2 linked regions of the Homo sapiens genome follow. Changing the gene in region 1 together with any one later gene gives a genetic interaction. Each region holds a gene or a part of one and is shown in the gene's direction. Other genes may lie near its edges.

Region 1 (3,500 bases):
AGCTGACTGGTGAATATACACAAAAATATTGATACACATAGACCTGACAACTAAAAAGGAATGAAAGGAAATTTTTAAAGCTCTCTAACAAGCATTTTTCATTCCCTCCTCTGCCCTGTCCCATTGTATCCAGACACTTACACGTGCATTTCTTTTCATAATTAATAGTGGTATTTTTGGTTTTTTTCTTTTTACTTCTATTGTAGGCTGTACTATTGAACAAATCTATATATTGCTCATTGTCATTTCTATTTATTGCTTCTAGTAAATATGTCCATGAATCTGTCTTTGCCTCAATAATGTAGCTCTCTCAGTATGCCTGATAGAGGCCGAATTACAGTGTCTTCCCCAGACACCCAGGCAGAGAAGCCATGATGACAGGGTTATCTTCCCAGCTGAAGTCTATGGCCTGGGCTCCGTGTAGGTGAGGGAAGGGGAAATGAAGTGCTACAGATCTTGAGACCTGTACCACATCTTCCTGAAATCTGGAAGTACATTCATAAGAACACCTCTTCCTGGGCCTTAGTCCCAACAAGTAGAGGCCAAGCAGAAGACCCTAATGTGGGCCAGCACAATTTCTAACTGTAGTTAAAATTATTTGTTCCAGTATTTGAATAGCTATGTACCCCGTCCACTAAACTATGATTTTATTTTTGGTTCAGAGTTATACAGTCTGTGTGAGAAAGAAGTCCCTGCATCCTCTGATTTTCTCTGTTCAAACCTACTTACGACCTATATGTAAACTATAAATAATATCTATACAATGTATAAGTTATGTAAGTCCATTGACCCATTAATTTTTTAAAGAATCTTAAGTTATACATAGATACAAGCAGTTCATATTTTAAGTGTGGTAGTGATGTATTTCCTATGCATCTTGTATTAATAACATTTTCTAATTATAATAATAGTAGGCAGTGTATTGATTGATAATTGACTGTGTGTGATGTATATCAGGTGCTGTGCTTTGTACTTTAAATTATAAATTTATATATTACTATAAATTCAAATAAAGTATAACTGATCCTCATTACAACTGTAAGTTATTATCATTGTATACATAAAGACACTAAGGGTCATAGATGTTAAGTAATTTGTCCTTACCTGCCAGTAAGTGGCAGGTGCAGGATTTGAACCCAAATCTGCCTATTTCCGAAGCCTGTGCTTATCACTTGCTGTTCTTTCCACATTTCTGATCCCAGAATGGTTTTCAGGGGAAATATAAATAATAGTCTTTTAATTTACTGTTTGCTCACTTTGGAATACCACAGACTTCCTTTTATAAAATCATGTTTGTATAATGCAGGACTAGCACGTTTTAGCCTCATTTTTCCTTCTGATTCTAATGTATATATTTAATATGTAGGGAATTGCTCTTTAACCAAAAATGCAACCAAATTGATATGTTAATAAACCATGTTGGATGAGCATCATAAAATCATGTCAATACTGGGGTGTTCGATCAAAACACAAAAAGCATTCTTGGACATAAAGGAAGATATGTACCAGTATGGGTCTCCTCTGAATACAATAAGTCCTGCTTTGTCACTAAGTCAGAGCTTACTGCCTGGTAATATATTTTCTATTTCTACATCATCCCTTACATTTAGTGTCTGCTACCAGAGCAATCTCTTATCTCCTCCCACTGAATTTTACAATTCTTCTGTGAGATTACCCTCTCCCCCATGGCCACCATATTGCAGTAGGACAGAGATAAACAGAGACCCTGCCAGTGATAAAGTGAAGGTCTCCTGGGACTCTGCCCCCCATGTCTCCCCCTTAGATTTTGCCTTTCTCTGGAAATTGATGAGAAAACAGCTTCTGCATAGTAGCTAATGCTTATGTCCATGTGTGGTTCTTTTGTAGCGTGATTGGACTCCCAGGAGAAGAAGACTGGCCTAGAGATGTTGCCCTTCCCAGGCAGGCTTTTCATTCAAAATCTGCCCAACCAATTGAGAAGTTTGTAACAGATATCGATGAACTAGGCAAAGACCTACTTCTGGTAAGTTTTTCTGATGTCAAGCTCGTCTGCACTGTGCCAGTGAGACACCTGCTCTACCCAGACTGGGTGGTGGGCACAAATATCAGTTCAGTAGCTGCTATAGGCATCACATGCCACAGCCACATGGAGCAGGAGGCAACAGTCCCTCCAGAGGTTTCATTTTCACACTTGTAGCAGCTGGTGGCTTTTGATTCTGGAATGTCTTTCTGATCCACATTTTTTTAAATCTGCCATCTTTGAATGTTTATTTCAATGCAGGTTTAGAAGCCTCTCGATTCACTTTGACATATGTTTCTTTAGAAGTAAATATTATGTTTCCTTTCTTACAGTTTCATGCTACTTTAAGTAATTTGTTTGTCATTTTAACGTGCCTTTTCTTAAACATTCACAACTTTGGGGAGATGTTTTTCCAAAAGAACTATATAGCAATACTTCTTCTAGTTGCTGATTTATTTAATAAGTATTTAGTGTGCCAGGGACATATAAAATACCTCACTGAAAATAAGGACTTCTGTGCTCTGAGACTCTTAATGCTCAACCATATACATAATTTCCTATACTTGGAGGCCAGAACAATAGGTAGAAAAGTGTACCTGTTGGGCTGTTCTTGATGTCTGAAACCCAGTGAGTAATGAGTGTCTGCTTTACCTCCTGAATTAACAGCCTTTGATATCTGCTTCTGCCCGTGGGTGAAGCACAGGTCTTCTCCATGTGTCTCATGCTGGGGCCCATGCCAGAGAGGCAGCAGCTCCCTGGGGCATGTTTTTCTCATGATAGAAGGTATCGATGCTCCAGAAGGGCAAGCAGAAATATGCAATGCCCCTGAAGGTCCATACTTGGAAGAAGTACCCGCCACTCTGCCCATGTTCCATTGGCCAAAGCAAGTTCCATGCCTAAGGCCAACTTGAATGGAGGAAAGAATGCTCCCCCTATGGTGAGAGGGGAGAGAAAAGAGGGAATATGTACTAAAAGTTATCCAATCTACCATAGTATCCAACTCTTGACTAAGTTGTGATTCCAAAAGCTCATTTTATAAGTAAACTATTTGGCAATTAAACTAAATTTTCTTGCAGAAACAATATTATTAACACAAAGTTTTTTAATTAACCCTCAACCTGGCAACCTTGTTCCTGAAGTAGAGCAATAATAGAACTTAAACACCTTTTTTTTAACCATATTTCTATAGGACAAAATGTATTAAGACTTCCAACGTGAGATTCTCCCACACCCCCACATTTGGCTAAGGTGTTCTCCTTCTCTCCACCCTCTTCCCAGCTTTAAGCCATCAGTGTAGCTGTGAGGAAAGGGCTTCCTCTCACATAATCCTCTAGAGACATGTCTCTGTATTGTGAATGTATTCCCACAGCTCTTTTCTCTTCTTTCCTATGTCCTGGAGATTAAATGCCACTACCTAATTTTCTCCTTCTTGGGCTCTGGGAAAAGAGAACTCAGGCTCAGGAATTTTGCCCCTGCTTTCCGGTCCTTTGGGAATTCAGCC
Region 2 (3,500 bases), on another chromosome or scaffold:
TCCTCCTAGATTCCTAGATGCAGGGGAGGCCTCTGATTTATTGCCCAAGGCAAAGGAGGGTATGATAGCAATCAAACAAGGCCAGTGGGTGGCTATCTACAAGGAACACATTTTCTAACAAGTTATAATGCTTTCTATGTAATAGTGGAGGAGAGAGAAAAATGTTTAAATTTTTTGTCTGATTACTTGGCTCAGTTTGGCATTAATAATCTGTCTATACGTTTGGGTAATTCTGTAGTTTTTTTTTTTTTTTTGAGACGGAGTCTCGCTCTGTCACCCAGGCTGGAGTGCAATGGTGCGATGTCGGCTCACTGCAAGCTCTGCCTCCCAGGTTCATGCCATTCTCCTGCCTCAGCCTCCTGAGTAGCCGGGACTACAGGCACCCACCACCACACCCGGCTAATTTTTTGTATTTTTAGTAGAGAGGGGGTTTCACCGTGTTAGCCAGGATGGTCTTGATCTCCTGACCTCGTGATCCGCCCGCCTCGGCCTCCCAAAGTGCTGGGATTACAGGCATGAGCCACCGCATGCAGCCTGTAGGCTCTTTACTGGGATAAATTGTAAGCATTGCTAGTTAAAGATTTCTAGTTACTTGAACGTCAGTACGCTTTCTGTACCAAGAATTCTCATAGTAGAACATGCTGACAGTTTGCATTTAATGAGAAAAATAACATTAGCTCTTACTTAAAGTTTTAAGGTTTGCCTAGAGTCAGTATGTGTGTTGGTCTTGCTGCCTTGTTTACTGAGCATTCTTAGCCTGACTTAAAAAAAATTGTAAGTATCTACTTTTTAAAATCTTCAGACACCAAGGACTTTATGTTTAATTTAATGGAGGTCATTTCTATCCTGAAAAGAATCCTAAGAAATGCAAGCTTTTTGACTTTTGAAAATGACCTGATAAAGTTTCTTAGAATTCGTGAGGTCCGGCCGGGTGCAGTGGTTCATGCCTGTAATTCTAGCGATTTGGGAGGCCGAGGTAGGCGGATTGCCTGAGCTCAGGAGTTTGAGACCAGCTTGGGCAACATAGTTAAACCCCGTATCTACTAAAATTAAAAAAAAAAATTAGCTGTGCATGGCAGCCTGTAGTCCCAACTACTCGGGAGGCTGAGGCAGAAGAATTGCTTGAACCTGGGAGGTGGAGGTTGCAGTGAGCTGAGATCGTCGTGCCGTTGCACTCCAGCCTGTGTGACAGAGCAAGACTGTCTCCAAAAAAAAAAAAAAAAAGATTTTGTGAGTTTCTTCATCTTGAATTGTTTAACCTTTTACTAAATATCGGTTATGACAAATCATTTAAGTACAAAGAAGAGAAAATAATCTCTGGAGGTGTTTTTGCTTTCCTTCTGCTGTTTTTTAGGACTCATAGGACTAGACAGTTCATTAATTTCAGCTTTGCAGTTCATTTTGCCATTGTGAAGAGGGAATTTTTTCTTAGTTGATCAATGAATAGCAGAATTAGAGACCGCAGAGATTACAATTATTAGACTTTCTCATCTGTACACATGATTACATATACATTTACATTTTAAAACTCATCTAGTATGATTTCATTTATATGAAAAGTCCAGACTAGGAAAATCCACAGAGACAGAAAATAGATTAGTGGTTGCCAGGGGATGAGAAGAGGGGGAATGGGGAGTCTCTGCTAATATGTATGAGATTTCTTTTTGGAGTGATGAAAATATTCTGGAATTAATAGTGATGATGGTACAACCATATCACTATACTAAAAAGAAACCACTAAATTGTATACTTTTTAACATGGTGAATTTTATGGAACGTAAATTATATCTCAATAAAAAGTCATCTAACAACCATCCAATTTTAATTCTTAGCAAGATTCAAGAAGAAATATTAATTAGCTACATAAACTGCATTCATATTCAGTGGTCACAGGCTTGTAGGCAAGCTGCCAAATACCCACATATGTCTGGAATGCTACCATGAATTTAATTAAGGCCCCAAAAGCTGTAAGAATTCTGAAGCAAGAGCCATTAGCGTGAGTGGGAACAGTGTCAAAGACAGCCTCACAAATCCTTTCCCCTGGATCTCCTACCCTGGTGGGGGATCGGTCAGATATACCCGTGAAGATGTAACCTCTTCTATTCACCCATCCAGCTTACTACTTAGAGCCTCTCCATGGCTCTAATCATGCACTCGCTTTATCTCTGCTCTGTCCACAAAGTGAGCTGCCTGGTGTCTGGGACTGGGGTTTATTCATCTTATTGTCAGTGTCTTATGTTTTGCCTTGTACATAGCAAGGGCTTGATAGTTGTTGACTTAAATCCACTAAGCCATTTACAAAAGCAATATTGTATTATTTCAGGCATGCATACATATGTGAATAGCACAGCTTCCTTAATAACATGTAATTTATTTGATTGTGAAGAGAATGGTAACTGTTTGGAAGTTGTGCTTCTGTAGATAGTACATTAAGTATCTATGGTCAGTGGAAAAAAGCTTAAGTTTTGGAAGCAGAGTTCTGATCTCTTCTCTGCCCCTTGCCATCTTTTTTGTTGTTGTTTAGGTTTTTTACCCCTTTGTAAGATTCAGTTTTCTGTTTATAAAATGGGATAATAGTAAATACCTCCCAGGGGGGTTTTGTAGGTTAAAGGATGATGATGATAATATCAATTACATATTGCACATTTTCTGTTAGCAAGTGGTCAATAAAGTATATTATGTTTGTCATCATATTATTAGTGGTGGTATATGAGACTATTTTGGGAATACAAAAGTCCTTTATTTGATCATGAGTTCTGTTGGGGATGAGGATATTTGATAAGCTGGACAGACTTTGTTTGCATAGCTTTGCTATCTTAATTGGCCTTGAGAAGCTACATTAATAGATGCATTTCACCTTAAGTTAATGGTGCTATTCTAATAACTTATTTATACTTTTTTTTCTAGGATCTAAAGAAGTACCACTTCTACTATTGGTTTTGCTATCCTGCCCTCTGTCTTCCAGAGAGTTTACCTCTCATTCAGGGGCCAGTGGGTTTGGATCAAAGGTTTTCACTAAAACAGGTATCAACAAATAACCAAAATGCACATAAAATTGGGTTGAATGTGCAAGAGTAGTTATGTAGTTCTTTCCAAAGACAAACAGGCACTTCTCTGGATGAAGACGTGGTAACTGAAATCCTCCAAAGGTGGTACTAGGAGCAGACTTATTTAGAAAATGTTTGTAAAGTCATTTTTTTGTATATATATTTATATATGTTTTGAGACTGGGTCTCACCCCCATTACGCAGGCTGGAGTGCAGTGGCACGATCACTGCTCACTGTAGCTTCAACTTCTCAGGCTCAGGTGATCCTCTCATCTCAGCCTCCTGAGCACCTGGGACTACAGGCATCCCATCACACCTGGCTAATGTTTGTCTTTTAATAGATATGGGGTTTTGCCATGTTGGCCAGGCTGGTCTTCAACACCTGGGCTCAAGCAATCTGTCCACCTCAGCCTCCCAAAGTGCTGGGATTACAGGCATGAGCCACCCTGCCTG

Evidence for each region.
Region 2: of CDK6 (region 1) and ATG7, changing one suppresses a phenotype caused by changing the other (phenotypic suppression), as found in Homo sapiens cells (one large-scale study listed by BioGRID).

What each region holds. Positions count from the first base shown.
Region 1 is NC_000007.14:92,616,574-92,620,073, reverse strand, and holds part of CDK6 (cyclin-dependent kinase 6), read left to right. Parts: intron 1-1,866; coding exon 1,867-2,002; intron 2,003-3,500. UniProt on the Homo sapiens protein: Serine/threonine-protein kinase involved in the control of the cell cycle and differentiation; promotes G1/S transition. Phosphorylates pRB/RB1 and NPM1.
Region 2 is NC_000003.12:11,310,397-11,313,896, forward strand, and holds part of ATG7 (ubiquitin-like modifier-activating enzyme ATG7), read left to right. Parts: intron 1-2,907; coding exon 2,908-3,024; intron 3,025-3,500. UniProt on the Homo sapiens protein: E1-like activating enzyme involved in the 2 ubiquitin-like systems required for cytoplasm to vacuole transport (Cvt) and autophagy.